2 separate regions of the Homo sapiens genome follow, and region 2 is linked to region 1. The links come from fine-mapping of genetic effects on gene expression. Tissue or cell type: whole blood. Region 1 holds a variant in brackets; the other region holds the start of a gene. All regions are shown on one strand. Distances are between the middles of the regions.

Region 1 (7,236 bases):
AAGTCACTCCCAGGGACATGCAGGCCGAGCTGGGTGGACCCAGGCACCAGGAGAGGCTCACGAGAAAGATGCCAACCTCCCGCCAGGTGGGCCTGGATAGGGGCAGATGGGACCCTCTGGGTAGGCCGAGAGCAGGCAGCCGGGGAGTGGGGAAGGCAGGCACAGGAGCGTGGCGTTAGTTCTCTCTTTATATAGACTCTGGTTCTAGAAACTCGCCTGCAGCCGCTGGCTGGACCAGCACACGCTGACGGGGCCGGACTATTTACAGGCCCATTGCGGGCTGTACCTTGGCCACCTCCCGGCACGGTGCTCAGCTGTGACGCCAAAATAAGTTAGGGCCGGCCGGGCGGGGCGGGGCGGGGACGGGGGCTGTACACACAAGTGCTGGGGGCTCGGGGCCTCAATACTGTCGAGGGCCGGGGCTGTAAACATGGCCGGGGCGGCCCTGCCCACCCCTAGTGGTCGGTAACGACCGGAAGCAGAGCAGCCGGGCAGGGCTGGGAGGCTCAGGCGTCCGACAGGCAGCTCTGGATCCGGTCCACCCACTGCTGGGCCGAGGGCACGTCCTGGGCACAGAAGTTGTAAACGCGACGCGTTGTCTTCACCTGGGGAAGGGCGGGTTACTGACTCCGCAGCCCCCACACCGCAGAGCCCCTCCCCTCTCCCAAGCCCCGGCCAAGGCTCACGTCAAAGAAGGCCTTCTCGTCCACAGTCTTAGGGGCACCCATAGTGGGCGTGCCAGGTGCCACAGCCTCCACCTCCGCCAAGTCGATGACACCCTTGCACTCTGTGTCCACACGGTGGTCGTAGTAGCGCAGCTGGAGGAGGCCACAGAGTCAGCGGAGCCCCCTCCCCCGTGAGTCCCCCCCACCACCTGATCACTCACCTGGTGCTTGGTCTTGTCCAGCACGAACCAGCGGGCCTTCCAAGGCTTCATGAAGGCCCCCTTCTTGTACAGAGTGCCCTCGTAGGACCTGCATTTCCAGCAGAACCAGGGCCAGGCTGACCGTCATGGCCCAGCCAAGCCCAGGCCCCAGCAGTCGTCCCCCCCTTGCTGTCCCAGCCCAGGAGGTAAGACCAGGCACCCTGTCCCCAGAACTGACCTAAGCCCAGAGCACTGGCCAGGGGGCCACAAAGAAGCCTTTGATGGGGGGCTGCAGGCCCAAGAAGACGACGCCCAGAAAGGAGACAGTGAAGGGCGCCTCACACCCTCCAGACTCCAGGGAGCATCCCCACACCAGAGCCTCAGGGTCTTGGGAAAGCAGCCCCCTACACAGGGCAGGCGCCCTTACGAGGAGAGGGATGGCCAGGCAGGTAGATCTGTAGAAGCAGCCACGGCAGCAGCTGCCTGGGATGGATCCTGCCAGACTCCAGACTCACGGGGGCCCCACCACTGCCCTCTCTCTACTCCTCCCTCAGCCACTGCAGGCTGTGGTCAGCTGTGGTCACCAGTTCGACACCCCAAACCCCTCCCAGTGGTGGTGTATACTTAAGCAAGCTCCTCAAAAGCACCCGCAATCTCCCACCAGAGGACTGCCTGGGACCCCAGAACACCAGCTCAGAGGTGTCCATGTGGCAGTGGGAGGTGCCCTCATACCTGTTCTCACTCTCTGCTGTCTGGAACTGGCTGTACAGGGTGCTGGTGCTGCGGCGGGCAGCCTGACGGGAGCCGGATGTGGTTGAGCCACTACTCTGGTCGCTGTCCAGGCTGAGGCTCAGGGTGGAGCCCACGGGCCCCTCCTGCAGGTACACACCCAGCGAGCGACGGTGGTGGGGTGCGGTGGACACAAGGAGGGAGCTAGGGGTGCCCTGGGAACAGGAGGTTGGGACTTGGGTCAGGGCTGGACAGACTCCACTTTCTCCCAGCAACACGCCCACCGTGGACGCTCACACTGGCCCTCACTCACACGGCCGTCTGGCCGGCCCTCGAGGCGCTGTGCAGCCTTCACCCGGTCCCAGGTGTCCTTCCAGCGCTCAGCGGGTTGGCCCAACTCTGTCTCCAGCCTCTGCAGCTCCTGGGGGAAGAATTAATGGCAAGTTTATTCAAAAGGAAATATCCAGACTAGAGCACGAAAAGACAAAAGGAAAACACAGGAAAGAGACACAACGGAAAGGCCTAACGCGTGTGTGACTGGCCACAGGGGGAGGTGGCAAGAGGGAGGGAAGGAATATGCAAAATGAATATTCGGAGACAACAGTTGAAAAATTTCCCAAACTAACCAGAGGCATCAAACAACATAATCAAGAAGCACTACAGACCCCAACAGGGTAAGTTAAAAACACACACCCCGGCCAGGCGTGGTGGCTCACGCCTGTAATCCCAGCACTTTGGGAGGCCGATCACCTGAGGTCAGGAGTTTGAGACCAGCCTGACAAACATGGAGAAACCGCATCTCTACTAAAAATACAAAAAGTTAGCCCAGCATGGTGGCGCACGCCTGTAGGAGAATCGCTTGAACCTGGGAGGCGGAGGTTGCGGTGAGCCGAGAACGCGCCACTGCACACCAGCATGGGCAACAAGAGCAAAACTGCTTCTCAAAAAAAAAAAAGACCACACAATACTGATCTTCAACACTGCAGGGTCCACAATGTCCAGCTTACAATAAAAGAACAGCAGAAAAATGGAGAAAAACATTAAAATAGACCCTGAAATGAAACAGGAGTTAGAACATACAGTAAATTCAAGAGAGTGATTTTAGGGCCAGGCGCGGTGGCTCACGCCTGTAATCCCAGCACTTTGGGTGGCCGAGGCGGGTGGATCACGAGGTCAGGAGTTCAAGACCAGCCTGGCCAAGATGGTGAAACCCCAACTCTACTAAAAATACAAAAATTAGCCGGACGCAGTGGCAGGCACCAGTAATCCCAACTACTCAGGAAGCTGAGGCAGGAGAATCACTTAAACTCAGGGGGCGGAAGTTGCAGTGAGCCGAGATCACACCACTGCCCTCCAGCCTGGGCGGCAAAGTGAGATTCTGTCTCAAAACACACAAACACACACACACACACACACACACACACACACCCCAAAATGGGACAGAAAAACTGCTGAAAAACAAAGAGAAAAGTCCCAAAACCTGCCAGAAGAAAAAAAGACATGCTCTCTTTGAAAGAGCAACAATAAAACTGACGGCTGACTTCAAAAGAGAAACACGAGGCCAACTGTCAACTTCCAGCCATGACAGATAATTAGTCTGAACAGCCCTCCCTCCATATGCAAATGATGAAACTGGACAAGAAGGGGAAGCCGTTGTTTCCAGATGTCAGACAAGCAGTGCAGCTTGAGAGACAGGAGCCTAAGACATGGGACCACATAAGATGGGCCCCACAGTCACCTGTTTTCTGCCCAGCCACAGTGCAGGGAGGCAGGGCCAGAGCAACACACGGGAGCTTGCTGAGCCGAGGAGGCAGAGACGGGACGTCCAGGGGCGCTAGTGCAGCTGGGTCTGCAGGGCAGCCCACAGAGGGGAGGGAGCACCACAGCAAAGGGGCTCTAGAAATCTAGACAGAGCCCTCCTTGAGTCGTTGGCCAAATTAGGCTGCCATGTGCAAAGCAAGATGTCACAAGGCCTGGCAGAGAACAGCTACTAAGAAGCTATGACCTGACGCCGGCAGCAGTGGCTCACACCTGTAATCCCAGCACTTTGGGAGGCCAATGCGGGTGGATAACCTGAGGTCAGGAGTTCAAGACCAGCCTGGTAAACATGGCAAAACCCTGTCTCTACTAAAAATACAAAAATTAGCTGGGCATGGTGGCGGGCACCTGTAATCCCAGCTACTCGGGAGGCTGAGGCAGGAGAATTGCTTGAACATGGGAAGTGGAGGCTGCAGTGAGCCGAGAGTGCGCCACTGCACTCCAGCCTGGGAGACAAAGTGAGACTCTGCCTCAAAAAAAAAAAAACAAAACTATGAGCTGAACCCAAATTCTAGAGGAATGCTAAAAGATACTGGACTTCCAAAAAGCCAGTGTGGCAAGACCTTACCGAAGACACAAAGACACAAAACTCCAACTGAAGCCCTGGAGAGGCCACACGCCTTGGGCTGCTCTATCCCTGGAGCTTCTCTAGAGGTGCTGGAGAGCTGCCCAAACAAAGCTTAGAAACAAGCTTCAAACAGACCAAGCTGACGCACAAGCTCATTACCTACCTGCGAGAATAAAACCCAAGACTCTAAGCTTAAAGAAAGACAACACAGGCAGGGCACAGTGGCTCCCGCCTGTAAGCCCAGCACTTCGGGAGGCCGAGGAGGGAGAATCGCTTGACCCAAGGAGTGTGAGAACAGCTTGGGCAACATGGCAAGACCCCATCTTTATATATATTTTTAAGTTATGTTTCAAGATTTAAAAGAAAAGATGGACATAATGGTTTATCAGATGGGGAATCTCTACAATAAAAAGCGTTAAATTCATTAGATGGGGCCGGGTGTGGTGGCTCATGCCTGTAATCCCAGCACTTTAGGAGGCCAAGGTGAGAGGACTGCTTGAGCCCAGGAGTTTGAGACCTGCCTGGGTGACATAGGGAGACCCCATCTCTACAAAAAAAAAAAAAAAAAAAAAAAAAAAGTAGCCGGCACGTGGCCCACGCCAGTAGTCTTGGCAACTCAAGAGGCTGAATGAAGCAGGATGATTGTTTGAGCCTGGGAGGTT[C/T]GGGCTGCAGTGAGCCATGACTGTGCCACTGCACTCCAGCCTGGGCAACAGAGCAAGACCCTGTCTCAAGAAATTAAAAAAAAATTCATTTGATGGGCTTCAGTATATTAAAAACAAGAAAGAAAAGAGTAGTGAACTTGAAGACAAGCCAACAGAAATCATCCAAAATGAATTGCAAAGATAAAGACTGAGAAAAAACAAACAGAGCTTCAGCAACGTATGGGACAATAAAGTTCCAGAAGGAAAGGGAGAGATCATGCAGAAAAAGTAATTTATAGAAGCAATGGCTTGAAATGTATTAAATTTGACAAAAATGATCATCCCACAGACCCAGAAGTTTAAAGAGCCCCAAGCAGGACGAAAGCAAAAACCACAATGGTCAAATTGCTGAAGCCAAAATTAAATGCAAAATCTTAAGGCAGAGAATCAAAGGGTGCCATTATACACAGTTTATAAGGATAAGAATCAACACCAACTTCTAAGCAGAAACAATACAGGCCAGAAAACAAAGTAATATCTTTTTTTTTTTTTTTTTTGAGGCAGAGTCTCACTCATGTCGCCCAGGCTGCAGTGCAGTGGCGCGATCTCAGCTCAGTGCAGCCTCCACCTCCCGGGTTGAAGCGATTCTCCTGCCTCAGCCTCCTGAGTAGCTGGGATTACAGGCACCCGCCACCATGCTCAGCTCATTTTTATATTTTAGTAGAGACGGGGTTTCACCATATTTGCCAGGCTGGTCTCGAACTCCTGACCTCAGGTTATCCACCTGCCTCAGCCTCCCAAAGTGCTGGGATGACAGGCGTGAGCCGCTGCGCCCAGCCTAGTAATGAGATCTTTTAAAGTGACATCAGTTTAACTGCTGAATTAAAAAAAAAAAAAAAAAAAAGAAGCAGCTGTCAACCTAGAAATGCATATCCAGAGAAAATGCCCTTTGCAAAATAAAGGCACCAAGATGTTTTCAGATAAACAAAAGCTGAGGGGATTTGTGACTGGCAGCTCTGCATTACAAGAAATATTAAAAATTCTTCAGGCTGAAGAGAAATAATAACCAGACCAGATTATACTGAAAGAATGAAGAATGTTATAAATGGCAAAAATAGAAGACTTTTTCCTTCTTTCTTAATTTCCTTAAAACAAAGTTGACTATTTAAAACAAAAACAGGGCCGGGCACGGTGGCTCACGCCTGTAATCCCAGCACTTTGCAAGGCCAAGGCGGGCGGATCACCTGAGGTCAGGAGTTTGAGACTAGCCTGGCCAACACAGTGAAACCCCGTCTCTACTAAAAATACAAAAAAAATTTAGCCGGGCATGATGGTGGGTGCCTCTAATCCCAGCTACTTGGGAGGCTGAGACAGGAGAATCACCTGAACTCAGAGGCAGAGGTTGCAGTGAACCGAGATCGCACCACCGCTCTCCAGCCTGGGTGACTGAGGGAGACTCCATCTCTCAAAAAAAAAAAAAAAAAAAAAAAAAAAACCATACTGGGTGTTTATGTCATACGTAAAAATAAAATGTGTGACAGTAACAGGACAGGAAAGGCATGAATGGACACACACTGCCGTAAGGCTCTTCTGGTGTCAACAGGGTGATGTAATTTCAAGTCAGATGATTATAGCCCCCAGCAACCCCTGAAACACAACACAGAGATGTACAGCTCAACTCACAGTAGACAGAATACTAAAAACACTTGTTTTTTAAAAAAAGAAAAGAAAGAAAGGAAAAAAAATCAAAGGGACAAAGAGAAAACAAAGAGCAAGATGACAGACTTAAACCCAGCCACATCAATAGTAACAGTAAATTAAAATGGGCTAAAAATTCCAATTAAAAAAACCCATTAGACTGGATAACAAGAAGACCCAACTACATCTACATTCTGTGTACAAGAAACTCACCTTAAACATAAACACACAGACCAGTAAAAAATACAAGAAAACAACAGAGCAAGCTGACACTGGTCATGACAAAGCTGAGTGACTCTGTTAGCACCAATGAGACCGCGTCAACTTTAAGACAATGAGCATCGCTAGAGAGAAAAAGGGACTGCTGTCTGTGCTTTGTGGGTCACCTCCATCACAAACCATGACTCCCGTACTCCCCCAAACCCTGTGCCCCATGCTAAGTCACTGAAATAAATGACTCATTTAAGCCTCACAACTTCCCTGTAAGGCAGGAATCAGCATTTCCACTTTCTGCACAAGGAACCAGAAGCTCTAAGATGCTTAGATAACTAGGCCAGGCACGGTGGCTCACGCCTGTAATCCCAGCACTTTGGGAGGCCGAGGCAGGTGGATCACGAGGTCAGGAGATCGAGACCATCCTGGCTAACACGGTAAAACCCCGTCTCCACTAAAAATACAAAAAATTAGCTGGGCGTGGTGGTGGGCACCTGTAGTCCCAGCTACTCGAGAGGCTGAGGCAGGAGAATGGTGTGAACCCGGGAGACGGAGCTTGCAGTGAGCGGAGATCGCGCCACTACACTCCAGCCTGGGCGACAGAGCGAGACTCCATCTCAAAATAAAAAAAAAAAGATAACCTCTAAGGCCACACAGCCAACAGTGGGGAGCTGAGTGCAGGTCCCCCCGTGGCCTAGGTCCAA
Region 2 (6,058 bases), 26 kb after region 1:
GTCCTGCGCAAAGGACACACACAAACAGGTGCCTGCACTACGTGTGGCTCCAGCAGTGAGCACACACGTCACAGCCAGCTTGTTGTGGAGCCCACTCTGCCTCTTCTCTCTGCCTACCTTCAACTCCTCACCCCACGGCCACCACGCCTCCCACCTGGCCTTTGCCTGCAGTCTCTACCAACCCAAACCCTCTCCACACTGCCCTCAGGATCATCAGGGTCATTATCAGCTGTTCCTGTAGCCCCCGCCCCAGCCCTCAGCCCAAGGCCCCTCACGCCAAGACAGCCCTCAGCCAGCCTTGCTTCCCTGGATCCTCAGGCACCCTCTGCCCCAGGTGGTAAGGCCTCCTCCATGCCCCTCATAGGTGCCTCGGTGCAGACAGCTCCCTCTGTGGGTCAAGACAACATTGACAGCCAACCTGCACAGTGGGGATGAGGACTATGTGGTCCTAGCAAGCGAGAACTCCCTCTCTAAAGAAAAAGACAGATGCTCATGACTGACGGTGCCATAAGACACACACTTGGATAGACATGAGCAGAGAGGAGTGTGTGCTGAGTAAGAGGGCACTGAGGAGGGGCTGGAGACGAAGAAGATGCTAAAGAGGCTTCAGGAAGTGTAGGGGGGTGTCCAGCAGAAGAAACACAAAAAAGAGAGAACTCCAGGTCCTTGGTGGGGACAGTGACAACTGGACTGACAAAAAACAGGGTAACTGGGAAGGCAAGCTCAATCCCACCTCCAGGCTCAAGATCCAGCCCCTGCCTGACCACACAGCCATCCCCACACACTGCCAGTCTGCAGCTGGGATCTGACAGCCTGAGTGCCAGTCCCAGCCTCTCTGAGCCGGCTCAGGCCAGGCAGTCAGCTTATCCGCGCCTAACTTCTCTACAGATGGGGGCAACACCAGGGCAACCCCGGTGGGCTGCTGGGAGGAAGAGGTGAGATCATGTACACAAAGGGCTGTGCGGGGCCTGGCACACCAAGCACGCTCGCCAACGCTGCTGTCTCCAGGCTGTTGCTGATGTCATCGTCAGGCTCCGTTTTCTCCTACCTCCTGGGCTGAAGAGCTCTCAGACACGGGCGCTGACCCCACACACAGACCTCCTGGGCATGGGCACCGACCGCCACGCTGATACCCCACCCAGGGCTTGGCGTGCAGGGCCTGGACCGTCAGGCGAGTCGCCAGGAATGCTCTTCTCTCTACTCTCGACGCTTCCTCCTCAAATCCTCCCAGTTTCAAATCAAACACCGCTTCTCCATGCACCAAACCCGAACTCCACCCCCTCTTTGCACCCCGCCAAGACCGCCGGGGGCTTCAGACGGAGCACCAAGGTCAGAGGCGGGCTGGCGAGCCGCGGGTCCGCGCCCCTGGAGCCACTAGAGCCACAGCCGCCCGCAGCTGGCCAAGGAGAGAGCCCGTCCCACCCCAAGGAGGCCGGGCAGGCCGGGCCCAGCCTTCTCTCCCTGCCGCCACCAGGCCCGCGCGGCCACGCCGCCCCCAGCGGACGCCCATTCTCCCCACGGGCTGTCCGGTCGGCCCTGGCCTTCAGTCCCCGCCCGGCCCCCGGCCCCGGCCCTCAGTCCTCGGCTCCCCCGACCCCGGCCCTCAGCGCCCAGCCCCCGGTCCTCGGCCCTCAGCGCCCGGCCCTCAGTCCTCGGCCTCCCGACCCAGCCCCCAGCCCTCGGCCCCCAGCCCCCGGCCCTCGACCCTCAGACCCAGCCCCTGGCCCTCAGCACTCGACCCTCGGCCCCCGGCCCTCAGCGCTTGGCCTCGGCACTCACCGCGCGGGTGCGGCCCGAACGCCACCAGCACGAAGTAGTCCGCGAGCCGCGCCATGGCGAGGGACGCGGGGCGGCCCGAGGGGCGCGGGCGGGCTCCGCGGCTCGGGGACTCGAGGACGGCGCGCTCATGGCCCGGCCCCGGCCCTGGACCGCGCACCCCGGACACCCCTGGTTCGCTCCGCGGCGGCGGCGGCGGCGGCGGCGGCGGCCCAGGTTCCCGCCGCCATCTTCCCAGCCAGCCGGCCCGCCCGGGCGCGCCGTGCGCCTGCGCGCTGTCGTCAAGCCCTGAGCGGGCGGGGCCTGCAACCGCGCATCTCCATTGGTCCAGAGGGTGGGAGGGCGGCTCCCGAGAGCAGCGCCCCGCCCATCGCTGACCACTCTGGGGCCCGAGCACCGCCCCTCGGGCCGGGCACCTGGACTACGGCTCCGGCGGGTCTGACGCCCTGACCCGGGTCGGCTGTGGTGTCGGCGGGAGGCATGGGCCAGGACCACAGCTGCCCTCGCCGTTGGGACTCCCCGCACAGGAGCCCGAACCCCACCCCTGGGCCGTCCCAATCTGGGGATCGGGTCCCCAGACTCCTCGTCCCCCGCCCCTCTCTGTCCAGCGGGAGAAAGGCGGGAGAAGCCTAGGCGCTGCCTACCGGGCCCCCCAAACTAGAAGTCAGAGGAGGCGCAGGGCCATCACCTCAGGGGCTGCCAGCCTGGCGATGGGGAACAGAGAGAGAATTCAGGCCCTGCCCTTGGGGTCCCAGGCTGAAGAGCCCCCATCTAGGCCAAGTGAGACATTTAACACAGCTTAAAAACGGCACGCTCATGTCCCCCTGTAAAGAGCAAATGTTCTAAGCGTGTGAGGCACATGAGGCCACGGAGCAGGGGGCTCTGGGAAAGCTGCATCCCCCAGGATCCCTGACAGTGCCCACCCCTCTCAAGGGCAGGGCTGGCCAGGGCCACCCCTGAAGTGGCTCAGGGATGAGCATGAGCCCAGAGCAGAACATGCTGGGAGAGAAGGTGCAGGAGCCAGCCTGGTGCAGCAGGGAAACCCCTCTGAGCACAGCAGGCCAAGGTCTGTTTTTTGTTATGTTTTGTTTTGTTTTTGAGGCAGAGTCTCAATCCGTCACCCAGGCTGAAGTGCAGTGACACCATCTTGGCTCACTGGAACGTCCGTCTCCTGGGTTCAAGCAATTCTCCCGCCTCAGCTTCCCGCGTAGCTGGGATTACAGGTGTGCACCACCATGCCCGGCTAATTTTTGTATTTTAGTAGAGAGGGGGTTTCACCATGTTGGCCAGGCTGGTCTTGAACTCCTGACCTCAGGCCATCCACCCACCATGGCGTCCCAAAGTGCTGGGATTACAGGCATGAGCCACCGCCCCCAGCCCGAAGGTCTGTTTTTTGTTTTTTGTTTGTTTTTGTTTGTTTGTTTTGAGACAGAGTCTCGCTCTGTCGCCCAGGCTGGAGTACAGTGGCGTGATCTTGGCTCACTGCAAACTCCGCCTCCCAGGTTCACATCATTCTCCTGCCTCAGCCTCCCGAGTAGCTGGGACTACAAGCACCTGCCACCACGCCCAGCTAATTTTTTGTATTTTTAGTAGCGACAGGGTTTCACTGTGTTAGCCAGGATGGTCTCGATCTCCTGACCTCGTGATCCGCCCATCTCGGCCTCCCAAAGTGCTGGCATTACAGGTGTGAGCCACCGCGCCTGGCCCTGAAGGTCTGTTTTTAAATGAGTTTGGCTGCTGCAAGAACTGGCCAAATGACTGGCATCCAGTCTCCATCCATGGGCAGGAGCCAGCCCAAGAGAATGAATGGAATCAAACTGAGAGGCCCCACCAGGGTCCCCTCCCTGCCCTCAGGCACAGGCCACGCTACGCCTCTCCTCTCCCACTGTTGGTTTTCACAGGTTGAGAAATCATCTTTTTAAAATTTAATTTTTTTGTAGAGACAGGGTCTTGATAAGTTACCTAGGCTTGTCTTGAACTCCTGTCCTCAAATGATCCTCCTGCATCTGCCTCAAAAAGTGTTGGGATTACAGGTGTGAGAAACTGTGCCCTGCCAGAAATCCTCCTTTTTGCCCCAGCTGGCTCAAGTTGGTTTCTGTCACTTGTACCCAAAAAGGTCCTCAGCACCACACTACCACACCACTGAGCTTGTGTGCAGGCTGGCAGGGGCCCGGGGCAAGTCTGGGCTAGTGCTTGAGCCCAGGGCTGGCTCTCTTCGGAGAGACTCTAGGGACCCTGCACCGCACTCTCCACTCTCTCTGAGACTCTGGGGACCCTGCGTCGCACTCTCTCCACTGTCATGCTTCCACCAGGCCCTTGGGAACAACCATCCACAGTGGCTCAGTGTCTCAGATGGATGGATGCCCCTCCCTACCGCCCAGCCTGCTGATTTCTGGTCAGCTGTCTTGCAGTCTGCACTCTCCTCGAACCTCTCACCCCACTTCCAGTGTCTCTGAGATAATTGGCTGCTCCTCAGAGAGCAAATAGAAGCTATCAGATGGGAGCACCAAGCCCCCATCTTACACCTCTCACACCACCCCTCCCTCCATTACCACAGGGCTCTGCCCCCCTGCCCACTCCTCATCTCAGGCCATCATTCACTGTCAGTGCCCGCCGCCAAACTCCATCCTTCCCTGTCTATGGATTCCTTGCTATCAGAGTCAAACTTACCTCTGCCATCATAAAACACTCAAACAAAACCCCCCAAAGGCCGGGCGTGGTGGCTCATGCCTGTAAATCCCAGCACTCTGGGAGGCCCAGGCGGGTGGATCACTTGGCGTCAGGAGTTTGAGACCAACCTGCACAACATGGTGAAACCCCGTCTCTACTAAATATACAAAAAATTAGCCAGGCATGGTGACGCGTGCCTGTAATCCCAGCTACTCGGGAAGCTGAGGCAGGAGAGTTGCTTGAACCCGGGAGGCGGAGGTTGCAGTGAGCCGAGATCACGCCACTGCACTCCAGCCTGGGAGATAGAGCGCAACCCCATCTCAAAAAAAAAAAGGAAAAAACCCCAAGATGCTGTTTGTCCAGCCAGTTGCCACCCTAGCTTCTTTTGCTTCTCACAAGCATTCCCCAAGGCCACCGCCCCCTCCTATGGCCCAGCCCTCGCACATTTGGAAACTTGTGTCTCCCCTTCACCTGTGTCCATCATAAGCGGTGCTGGGGCAGCCCCGTCGCTCCCCAGAAGCAGCTTCTCCAACTAAGAATGGACTCACATGCAACAAGCACCAGGGACCCTGGGAATCACAGACGGGGCCTCCTCTCTGGTGGGCTGGGCAGGTGCAGAAGCAGCAGCCAGGCTGATGCCTGAGGGCAGAGGATACACCCTCCCCACAAGCTGGCGGGAGGCAGGACTGTGGCTCACAGGGGCAGCAACTGTCCTGTCATCTCAGGGCCTGAAACGCAGCCCCTCGCTGGGGCTGTCCTCCACCTGTCCCAGATTAAAAACCTTGTGAGGGCTGGGCACGGTGGCTCACGCCTGTAATCCCAGCACTCTGGGAAGCCAAGGCGGGCGGATCATGAGGTCAGGAGATCGAGACCATCCTGGCTAACACGGTGAAACTCTACTAAAAATACAGAAAAATTAGCCGGGCATGGTGGAGGGCGCTTGTAGTCCCAGCTACTTGGGAGGCTGAGGCAGGAGAATGGCGTGAACCCAGGAGGCGGAGCTTGCAGTGAGTCAAGATCACACCACTGCACTCCAGCCTGGGTGACAGAGCGAGACTCCGTCTCAAAAAAAAAAAAAAAAAAAAAAAAAAAGCCTCTTGAGGACAGGGAATTTTTGCTGGTTTTTCTTTATTGGTGGGGCGAACGATTTGATTGCACTTGTGTTTTGAAAGGACAGAGCTGGTGGCAGTGTGGAAGGCTGAGGGCCGAGTGGGGAGGCAGCAGCAGAAGCCGCAGCAGCAGATTTGGGAACCTGGGGGATCCCCTGCTCAGGCCCTTCCCTACCTGCCCCTCCAGAGCTGGCGCTGGGCTCCATCCTTGGCCAGCCTCTCCGCATTCTCTGTGGATGAGGCTCACCATATCCTCCATGGCTGCGCCATCCCTGAAACCCCAAAACTGTTCTCGACCTGCCTTATCTTTAGTCCCATGCCTGCCAGGCTGGGGAGCGACCAGACCCCTCTCCCTGGACAACCCCCAGGCAGCTCGGCCTCAGCATGTCCAGGCCCCGACCTCTTCCCACCCCCTCAGCAGCTGCCACATCAGCAAACAGAAGGGCTTCGCCGGGAACTGAGCCCCTCATTTCCCGTCCTGCCCCGCTAAATTTCTCCCACCC

Evidence for each region. PIP is the estimated chance that this variant, and not a neighbour inherited with it, causes the effect.
Region 2: SBF1 starts here. The variant in region 1 is fine-mapped to the expression of SBF1 in whole blood (TOPMed, PIP above 0.99).

What each region holds. Positions count from the first base shown.
Region 1 is chr22:50,446,636-50,453,871 of GRCh38, forward strand. SBF1 (SET binding factor 1) reads right to left here. Exons shown (of 41, transcript NM_002972.4): 37 at 1,908-2,015; 38 at 1,598-1,809; 39 at 887-974; 40 at 687-818; 41 at 1-605. The coding sequence ends at 507. Among named protein-coding and RNA genes, the nearest start is that of SBF1, 25 kb to the right of the region's middle. The variant C/T (reference allele first, on the strand shown) is at 4,643.
Region 2 is chr22:50,473,007-50,479,064 of GRCh38, forward strand. SBF1 (SET binding factor 1) reads right to left here and starts at 2,029. Exons shown (of 41, transcript NM_002972.4): 1 at 1,780-2,029. The coding sequence starts at 1,834. RefSeq lists enhancers at 1-461, 462-1,371, 2,282-3,191 and silencers at 1,391-1,520, 1,941-2,400, 1,981-2,185.